Linked DNA regions of Homo sapiens: region 1 is linked to region 2. Evidence: fine-mapped QTL for protein levels in blood plasma. A gene starts in region 2. The other region holds a variant in brackets. All regions are shown on one strand. Distances are from middle to middle.

What was found. PIP is the posterior inclusion probability: the model's chance that the variant is causal. The UK Biobank Pharma Proteomics Project read protein levels with antibody pairs (Olink). The fine-mapping took linkage between variants from a reference panel, not from the people measured, so its PIPs are less certain.
Region 1: its variant is fine-mapped to the plasma level of the WASF1 protein (UK Biobank, PIP 0.98).

Annotation. Positions count from the first base shown.
Region 1 is chr6:110,396,830-110,402,208 of GRCh38, forward strand. The region is part of intron 4 of DDO (D-aspartate oxidase); the gene reads right to left. Among named protein-coding and RNA genes, the nearest start is that of DDO, 16 kb to the right of the region's middle. The variant A/G (reference allele first, on the strand shown) is at 2,177.
Region 2 is chr6:110,176,365-110,181,743 of GRCh38, forward strand. It overlaps WASF1 (WASP family member 1), which reads right to left and starts at 3,306. Exons shown (of 11, transcript NM_003931.3): 1 at 3,075-3,306; 2 at 2,234-2,378. It overlaps CDC40 (cell division cycle 40), which reads left to right and starts at 4,063. Exons shown (of 15, transcript NM_015891.3): 1 at 4,063-4,269. The coding sequence starts at 4,081. RefSeq lists silencers at 2,666-2,985, 3,226-3,335.

The DNA of each region.
Region 1 (5,379 bases), 220 kb after region 2:
TATGTTCTTAAACATGTAATAATAGATAAATGTTTTTAAAGGTAAAATAACTGTAAAGGTTGTTTTTCCCCTTAACATTGGCATAGAAAGAAAAGTAAATTGGAGTTTTGTAGTAATACTGAGCAGCATGTTTCTGTGTGTTTATAATCTTCCAAAAAGTGAACACGAAGAAAAGAACTTTAAAAAGAGCTTAGGAGGCCTCTACCCTTTACCATTCATATGACCTCGGCCAAGTTATTCCACTTCTCTAAACTTTAATCTTATATCCATAATATGGGGGTAGTAATACTGACTCTCTAGGCTCGTTGTGAAAATGAAATGAGACACATCTGGAAAAAGCATAACACTGTGTCTAACACACTATAGCTGCTCAATAAAGACCTTTTATTTTTAAAAAAGTGCTTAGGGGTTTTTCATGCTACTGTAAAATACAAGACCCAGTGCATTATCTATGTGTATTCTTATCCTCCATACCTGTATATCACTTATGTTTCATTAAGGATGATATTTCAATTTTGAAAAGTTTTAACTGATCATTATTTGAATATTATTTTGATTTTGTGGGTTTTTTAAATTCTTACATTGTAGATTCCATGTGTTAATATTTGAACATTATGTTCTGTGCTCTAGATATCCTAATTAATTAAAACTCAGAATTATTTTCATAATTTGGGGGAATAAGAGAATCTGCCAGCCTTGGGATATCAGCAGATTTTTAAAACTCACTGAAATTGTTTCCTAGGGATAAGAATGCCTAACTTATAGGGTTTTTATGATGATTATGCAAGAATTCAATAAGTGCAAATGTCTTTTCTTTTCCATTTCAAGGGTTCCCTGCTGGTCAAGCTACTGATAAAAGTCCAACTTGTGCCTGGTGACTTCTTAAGCTATCCTAGTGGCTGGGCCTTGTCAGGCTTCCTGTGCTGGATTGCTCCCAGGCCTTGGATCCCAGAGGAAAACTCACTAAATGTGCCTGGAGACTGGTCACCTTTATGTTGTTGTAATGCAACCACATAGTGATGCCCAGTCATTATTATGTATCCCATGGGTAATGCATAAGATGGCACCAGTGCATAGGAGGAAACTGTACCCAAAAGTCAGATGTTAAATTAGGTGACCAAGTGCCTACCAGGCTGCTTTTATGACCATATGAGGTAGTTATTCTGGAAGTTTGGGGTGACATGGTTGGAGGTACAAGAAGCATGATGACTTTCCTCTTGGGGCTTCTTGCAACTGAGCAAGACCTCATCCTGGAGAGAGAGAATACCATTGTCCCAACCTCCCATGAGGAAATAGGGTTAGGGGCACTCAAGAAGCAGGGCTCACGAAATAGCCCCAGCATCCTCTGGTCATCACCCTAAAACATGAGAGTGTCCATTTCCCCAAGCTTAAGTTAGCCCTCTGCTGGACTGCATCAACCTGACCCACAAACAAGGAGGATGGTCATCCTCAGCGCCTTTCCTTCACCTCACTGGGAGTTTCAGCAAGGAGGTAAATTGAGTTGGCTGTGCCCCTGAGGAAAATAAGGGTCCACTAAGCAAATCTTAAATGCGTACACACACACACACACACACACACACACACACACACACACACACTTGGCCTCCCAGGAGCAGAGTCCCCTCATCCCCTCTCTGCTCTTGGAATCAGAGGCAATTCCCATACTCCACTGAAGCTGAAGCCATGGCGAGAAAGGAATCTCAGGTAGCACTAAACAGGGAGGTGGGGGCTGTGATGCGGACAGCCTGTGGCTGGCAGCGGGGACAGGGGAAAAGACGAGCTCCTGGTGAGCTCCAGGGCAGACATGGCTGGCTAATGGGGCTAATGATGGTGCTGAGGAAGCCAGTTTCTTTCACAGGCATTGCTGTGAGTCAGGCCGAGCAGGAGAACACAAGATACAGGAGAAGAAAAAGATGGGCATTAGAGGACTCCCCCAGAGAAAGTTACAGAGAGGCCTAATCAGAGGAGGGGCGAGGAAAGTACAGGGCAAGTAGCTCAGTGTGGCCAGTGCTGCGGTCAGCATAGGGCCTCCTTGGGGACACAGGATAAGGCATGGCCTCTTGGAAAGAGATCAACGTGTCCATGTTACAGGGCCCAGCACAGAAATGGGCCACCCAGTTTCCTGAATGTTGTCAAAGGCAGGACAATCCTGGTCCCTCTGGGAGGATTGATTTAG[A/G]TGGGCTGCCTGGAGGAAGACTTAATGCCTCGCTGACTCATTTCCTGGAAGGAGCCAGTAATAAAGCAGCAGAATTTAACTCCACTGGCAGAATATGATATGAAATATGACCTGTGTGGGTGATTCAAACTCTGTGGGGTTTTTGTTTGTGTTTCTTCTGTATATTATTGGGCATTATTGTTTTACTTTTTGTTTGAGAACAAGATGATCTCTTCTATCTTTTGAAAAATAATAAAGATCTAATTTGTAGCACAAAATTTTTTTGTGGAAGTTTGTATTATTTCAGAAGAATCGTGCTTAAGCTGAAGCCATTGCTGTGTGGCTTGCTGAGCAAATGCTTATTTTTGAGTGAGAACACTGAAGGCTGAACACTCACATTGTGTGGAAGAGGCGTAGGTGGCAACAAAATAGACCCTGAGTGTGAGGAGCAAACAGAGATTGTGTGGCGTCCCATGTGGGTCGCCTGGCGGGAGGTCAGTGGGTGGCAGCCCAGAGGGAGCCCCAGGTGTCGCCCCCTCACCGGGACGCGGCCCTCCCGCCCACCCCGCCTGAAATGCTCGCCCTGAAAGGCCGGACTTGGGCTGAGAGGAGTCCCGTGCTGCAAAGCCTCCTGAGGGAGGAAAGGGGACACGTGGCCTTGTTCCTCCACCAGCCTGGTCGGACGCAGGCTCCGGGCTGCAGGGAGCTAATCTGCATGGCCAGGGGCCACCGGGCGCTGTCTGTGGAGGCCCCACACCGGGGTCAGGAGGGAGCCAGGTCTCAGGAGCACAAGGGAGTGAGGAGCAGAGGCTCTGAAGTCTTCCCGCCGCAGCACACCCTGTGCCTTCTGTCTGAGGCACTCACATCTCAGCCGCCTTCCTGGCGGGCACGCGTATCAAACAAACGGACTGAAGAAGGTCTCCCCAGGACTCGGGTAAAAGGGCAGCCCTCGGTCCTCTCCTCCCCGCTGCCCATAACCGACCCACAGCCGGGAGGCGGCGTATTCCCAGGCACCGCCCCCTCCGCCGGTCTCCGGCCGATGGCGTTGCCGTCCTCGCAGCCCCAAGCCCCCTGGCTGGGGGTCATTTTAAGTGGCGGGAAATGCTGACCGCAGGCCCGCAGCCCAGGACGGGGTGGCAGGGTTGACCCAGGCCTTCCTGCCGCAGTCAGGGGTCAGGTCTGAAAACACAGAGATGATGGAACTACGGGGCCTGTCTTCTAGAAGGCGATGCTTTGGAAGCAGGAAGAAGACATTGTTCAGATAACATTTGATTCGGTGTGGAAATGACGGGGGCTGCCCGGAGCTAAAACACTCTCTCTCGGAGTAGTGGGAGCTGGGAGGGTGCGCAGGAGCGGGCCGGGGCGGGGACTGGCGCCTCATCACGGGCCCGCGTGGGGACCTCCAGCCCCCGCAGAGGAGGACGCTGCCCACGAGGCAGGGCGGCACCAGGCCAACTGGGAGACTTATGAGGACTCCTCAGAGGAGGTGACTGTGTGCTGGGGGGAGGCTGGCGTCCCTGCCTCTGCCCCCTTCTACAGTGACACCTCTTCAGGTGCCCTGGGCCTTCATGCCCCCTCCCTGCCCCATCAGAACTCTCCTCATCTCCCCAGGGCCTTATCAACAATTTGGCCCTTAAAGCAAAATGAAAGCAATGAGCCCTCTCTCCCAGGAGGAGTTAAGCATTTGCATTTCACTTCTAGACTTTAGAGCCAATGCTTCAATGAAAGCTTGGGCCCGAGAAAGTTTGTGAAGAAACGCTTCACACCGCCTTCCCTGATTACCCATAAGCTCAAGGCTATCACTAGGACTCAAAACTTACTCTGGCTCATCTGAGCCGCACCTTCTTTCAGCTGGGCACCCAGAGGACCCCTGTCTGGCCCTTCTCCAGCCATGCTTTCTTCTTGAGGCAGTGAGTGTGTGGGGCTCGGGCATGTGCCCAGCCAGAGCCCTCTCCCTTCACTTCCAGCCCGTCTTCTGGGGACCCAGGATCCCCATATTCCCTGTCCTCTTCCAGGACCTGCACTGTCTTCCTCCCGGGGGCAGACTGTGCCACTGTGTGCACCCCGGAGCCCAAGGAGTGGCCAAGGACAACTGTCTTCAGGGAAGATATGGATAGAGCGAGGGTGCTTCCCGGCATGCTCCTGGGCCCCTTTGCTGCCATGTGAAGATGCAGGACTCTTAGGAATCTAGAAATTCTAAATGTCAACTTGGACTTCCAGGTGGTTGTGGTAGAGGTGTGTTCTTTAGCTACACCTCAAATCAGGATTTACATTGCAACAGAGTGAAAATTTCAGGGGACAGAGGAAAAGAGAAAAGACAATTTCTTTCTGCACTAAATTCATAAATTTAAATTGTGGCATTGCAGCAGGTTTGTGTTAAGGGAAAGGTGGTGGAAAATATTCATGAAAAGAAAATGTTTTTCTTCTCCAAATTTGGGGTGTGTGGAATTTTGTTGTGCCCCAAAGTAAAAAAGTGCTTTAAAAAAAAAAAAAGCAAATCAAGTGAACATATCAAAAAGACACAAGAGCAGTTTGAAGGGGCTCCTACTCAGCTAATCTTGGACAATTTGAACATCAAAATGATGGGGGGGATAAATTATAATCCATTGAATAAAATAGGTACCAATGAGTTCATCCTGATATAAATACATATAGGAAAAGGAAAACTTCTTTACAGTAGAAAGCAAACTATATAGATGGAGTTATAAAATGATCACTTGGAAAATATCACAGTAATAAATAGTTCAGGCAAAAATCATCAATGGATGCTAAAACTCGTAGGTGAAAGTACTACTTTCATAGGAACTCGTTTCATGGGAATAGGATATTTACATAGTTTCAGGTATATCACAACAAAATATTTAGTAATTACAAAGAGAAAAAGTAGTAACCTCACAGTAGAGATAACTGGCATTCTAGGTGATGAAAGTTAACAGCCCCAATAAGGGGATAAACTGATATCATCTTCCTCCTGCTATGATGCAATAAGGATTCAACATTACTTCTATGCATTCTCACCCCAACATGCAGGACCTCAATCCGATCCCGAGGAAACATCACACAAACCCCAACTGAGGGACATTCTATTATATGAAACAACTGGTCTGTACTATTCAAGCTTGTAAATGTAATAAAAGACAAAGACAGACTGGAGACTAAAGAGACATGACAACTGAAGACAATGTGTGACTGTAATTGGATCACGGACTGGAAAAAATTATGTG
Region 2 (5,379 bases):
AGTGAGCTATAAGAAGAAAATTGTTAATATTTCATAAATCAAAGACTACTAACATATACATTATTAAGTATCTAGTGCCAGTTCAAAAGTGTACAGGTAATGGAATTATATCTGAGCAGGTAAATGGAGTTCAAAGAACCTTGAAATTCATTTTTCTCTTTTCTCCTGAGATAAAGTTATACATTTCATTAATTATAATGTTTGATAAATCTTTAAAAATGTTTCACTAAATATATTAATTCAATGGATATTCTTTACCCATTCATTTTATTTGTTCAACAAAGAAAATTGAGCCCCTGCTATTTGTTAAACACTATACTAACAACTTTGGATTTATGACAATAAGCTGCAGGTCAGTTTCTCTCCTCAAAGAACTAAGAAAAACCACGACTTTACTGCATTTACCCAAGTGACGGTGTCAGCTAAATTTTAATTCATTTAAGAAAACATTATAAAACAAATTCTCAAAAACGAAACCATACAATAGTAACTTTAAACACACTTTAATAGTCTTATCTATATGAAGTTTTCTCACAAAGTAACCAAAAGCACTGTTTTGGTAAAAGTGCTAATAACATAATCTTTTGATAGTAGTCCAATAAGGAAATCACAAGGTACTATGTACTGTGATAATGAAAATCCAACACTTGGAAAAGATATCTTAAGTTATTCCTAAAATAAAGCAAAATGTATAATTAAATATAGTCTTATACAATATTAAAACTGTCTCTGAATATATGAATATTTACAAACATGAGTAATAAAGTAACTCTATAGCATACCTTATAAATGATCACAACTATGTATTTTGGATTGTAACACCTGCAAATTTGTAACAAAAAGGGCCTTAATATTTTTCGAATATATTATTCTTCACTAACTTAATTCAATATTCTACTTATTATCAAGTCATAATTTTTGTTTACTATTAACTATTTTATCTATATGTTTAACTATATGTAGGTATTAACTGTAATAACCTTTATGTCTGCAATTATTTAAAACCCTTGATAGATGAGAAACATTTTTCAGTTCAGAGGCATACCTCTCCAAAGCAAAAATCAATGTTAATCAGCCATTCTAATATGCCATGGAAAATCCTGACATTTTTTCATTGTATTTTTCACAGAAATTTTTTAATCATTCATCAGCTAAAAGATTTAAATTTTCTTTAAAAGGACTACAAAAACACACCTTTCCTGAATTTATGCACACTACCTACTAAATATTATCTCCATTTACATATAAGGAAACCAAGGCACAAAGGTGTCCATTTTGTAAATTGCAAGGTCATTTCCTAACCAAGCAACTAATCCTACACCATCAACTTATATTATATGTACGCCACTTCCAAGTGCCATAAAACAATTACTATACCTTAAAACTGCCTCTGCAATGCTTATGTGATTCTCTTTTATCAAAAGGGTAAATGCAACAAGCTTAAACAAGGAAAGATGGAAAAGGAAAATTATAAAAATACAACACTTACTTTTTATAGTGAATCATTTATTTTTAAATAATGAGATGTAAACAGTTTTTAACATAAAAATCAAGTAACCAACAGTGGTTTCTTATATTTGCAAAAAAAAAAAAATTTCATCCTTCAGGTAGATCACGCAAAACTGAAGCCTACTCATACTTGTAGATTCAAGTTAGAAAAAAAAAAACTGGATTCTAAAACAAGTAATTAAATACATGATATTGCAAAGAAAAAAGTGAATAAAAAATAAAATCAGATAAATTAGGGAATGACTGATATGATGGTTAAAATCCTCATCTTAAATATTAAATCCTTCCATTCAATGGAAGGCAACGATTAGTAATGACATATTCTGCTACCGAAAAACAAATACAAAACTTTTCTTATTCAAAACTTCCGAAATTTTATATCAAATACTTCATTCAAATATTCAATATAAACAAAAATGTTTCCTAACAGAAACTTAGAGCATAAAGGATAAACTGTTCCTGAGAGTTCAAATTGAGACTGCATTTCTAATTATGATATAATGCTATGAACAATCAGAAAAATGAATGTTACCTACCATGCAAATTTAAATTTAAGAACATTAGACGGATTGAATAACCAATAAGTCAATTACATCAATTAGTGAACAGAAAAAAGACCTTAGCTAATCGTGAATCTAACACCAAAGAAAAAATTTAAGTCGAATCCACCGCACATCTTATTACATAGAAAAGGAAATGATTAGAGTAAGTCGTATTTAAGTACCTAGTCTAGCTGGGGATCAATTAATTAATCGGTTATAGGGCAGGACGTGAATGTTGAGATCGGATGTGCTTTCTTTCATCGTTATTCCAGTTCATCATCCGCAAGTGCAAGAGAAGGTGTCAGAGTACCGAAGCTAGGGGGCATGCTGTAGCAAGGGGAAAAGAAAAATGGGAAAGGTGCAATGGATGCTGCATAGTTGAATAATTATCTGGGTGGCACAATGGGCGAGTCCTGCCGACATGAGCGCTGAGTGAGCGGCTCCGTAACTCTGCCCAAGGCAGCCCCCATGAACAGGCACCAGAAGCGACAGCACCGCTTCGCCTCCCCTTCCAACGAAGAAAAGGATGCCCGCACTCGCTTTACCGTTATGTTTTCAGACACCGACTCGCGGAGCAAACACGCAAACGCACGAGCTCGCTTTACCGAGCCTCGCGCACGTAGGGCGAGCAGGGGATTCTCTGTCGCCCGGGGCTACCGCCTCCCCCGGAAAGAGGCACGGGGCGGACCGCGGGCGCGGGTGGGCAGGGAAGCCCGGGCGGTGGCACCTCAGGTGACACCCACAGTCTCTCCAGCGAGAGCAGCCCCGGGGCGGTCCCTGCAGCCAAGCCCCAGGCGCGCCCGCCGCCGTCTCCCTCGGCACCCAGCCCCGCTGGCGGGTGGGCGGTGGGCGCTCGGAAAACCCGCGGATGGGGGTGGGGGCCGGGGCGGGGAAGGCGCGCCCATCCATCCCCGTCACCTTTGCGGGCCACACACCACTCGGTCTGCTCCGGCCAGTAAGGAAGAGTTCCTCTCCCAACACCCCCTCCCCGAAAAAAGCAATTCCTCAGGGACTCGCGCTCACCGTGAAATCTTGGGGGCTCACGCCTTACCCCTTCTTCATGCTTCGGCAGCGGTCGCCGGTCCCCCTCGGCTCGCGGGACTCCGCCTAGAGCCCCCAGGAGGGTCGGGCTCTGGGGCGGAACCCGCTCAGGGCAGCGGCCCAGGCGCCAGGCCACAGGGAACGCCGCCTGGGGCGCCAACCCGCCGCCGGACCCACCGTGTGCTCGACGCGCGAGTGAACAACACCGCGAGCTGCCGTTCCCCCCGCCCCCTCCCCGCGCGAGACGCTCCACAACCGGGCGCAGGGACCCGCGCCAGAAGCAGGGGGGACCGCGAGACTCTTTCCGCCTATGGTCCCATCCTTGCCCCCCGCCCCAGGAGCTATTCCTGGCCAGTCAGAGGTCTCAAAACTTCAGATTCTCACTTTCCTCTTCAGCCTCCAGTGCCCAGGTGCAGCCGAGGTGGGAAATCCAGCCTCCGCCCACTCCCCCATTAGTGGGGCCGAAGCTCGCTCTTCCCCCCTTTCCTGAGGTTCTGTGGTATTGCCCAATCCTCAGTTTGGGGGAGGGGGACGAAGAGAACACTGCTTGGCTAGGGAATGAGGGAAGATGATAGCCAATTGAATGGAACATCCATTCGGGGGCGGGGTCAAAGGGGGACACGCCCCCGTTCCGCCCCCTCGTTGCAAACTACACTTCCCATTGTGCCCTCTCGCGCTTCCTGCCGCGCTGCACGCTGGGAGTGCAGGACCGCGAGGCCTCAAGGTATTTTGGAACTCATATTCTTTAGTCAACTAGGTCCTAAATGTTATAAACTATTATAATTCTCCCTTTTTCCCTAGATAAACTTTTTTAAGCTCTCAGCTCGACAGTAGTTATTCTAATAATAATTAGCTTATTGTTTCAAAATGTAAGACATTATTTCTTAGCAAAGAAAGTTAATGATGTGTTCCATTGCAATCTGTCAGGACCTGGGAGCCTCTTCTTCTTCCGCCCTGGCAGGGTCTCCGCAGAAGATTTGTTGCCGTCATGTCGGCTGCGATTGCAGCTCTGGCCGCTTCCTATGGTTCGGGTTCAGGGTCCGAATCGGACTCGGACAGTGAGAGCAGTCGGTGTCCGCTGCCAGCCGCCGACTCCCTCATGCACTTGACTAAATCGCCTTCATCAAAGCCGTCTCTAGCAGTGGCAGTGGACTCGGCTCCGGAGGTGGCAGTTAAGGTAAGCACTTTTGCTACTAATGCAGTGTGGGAATTGTTGGCTTCAGCTCCAGAACTGCCAGCCGCTTGTTAGGTACCGGGTTACCTCTTTCTCAGTGCTCAGAGATAAGTTGCTAACGTTTGAATTTCTTCTCCTTCCCACATGCATCCTCGGGAGAGGCAGAATTGGAAGTTCGGAATAGCCCTCCGATGCTCTCTGCCCTTGCCTCCCGCCATCAGAAAGCAAGTGGAAGGAGGGGATGAAATTTGAATTTGTGGATTAGGGACATAGCCTGGAAAGTGCAGGTGTAATCTCGGAACATAAGTGAAATTAGATCAGGACTTCCCAAACTAGAGTATTGTGTGAGCAGTGGCCTCGATTTGTCTTATTTTTGAAGAACTAGGTTCTAATCCTGGCACCACCACTTGTGTGAACTTGGACAAGTTATGCAGCCTCCTTTCTTTCCTCACCTGTACAGTGGAGATCATTTTCAAAACATCTGTCTACATGAAAAGATGAGTGTGAAAATTGAGTGAAATTACACAAATAAAGCATATAGCACAGAGCCAACTAGTGAGAGTGCAGTAAATGTTTTATGATTGTGTGTGTTAATACAGTGAGAAAAAGGCCTTGGATTTGAGAAACAGCTGCATGATCTCAATGGAGGAAGCTGATTAATAAGGCAAGAGTTTCCAGGCAGAGGTGACAGGCAAGCCTGAGAACGCAAAGAGCCTAGTGGGTTTGAAGAACTGAGGAAAAGCTGATGTGTCTGGAGCCTGATGAGAGCATCTACCAATTGGTAGTGTAGGCCCAGTAGAGCCCGAGGTAGGTGATCAGCTCAAGATGTGAAGAGGGGAGGCGGTGTCCAAAAATTCCTTTGTATCATGTCCCCAAGTCTAGTTTAATGACTTAAGAAGTGTTTTACAGGTTTTTAACAAGCTGTATGTGAATTTTACTTTTTAAAAATGGACATCTGTCATGAAAGAATGCTTAGAATCCTCCTAACTTCCTATCAAAACAAAACTTTCCAAACTTAAGCCCCTCCAGTAACCTCCTGAGTCTTCTCCTTTCACAGCTCAGCTTTTTGGAGCTCTCTTTTTGTCTTCGTCTCATTTTCTCCTCAACCCAATG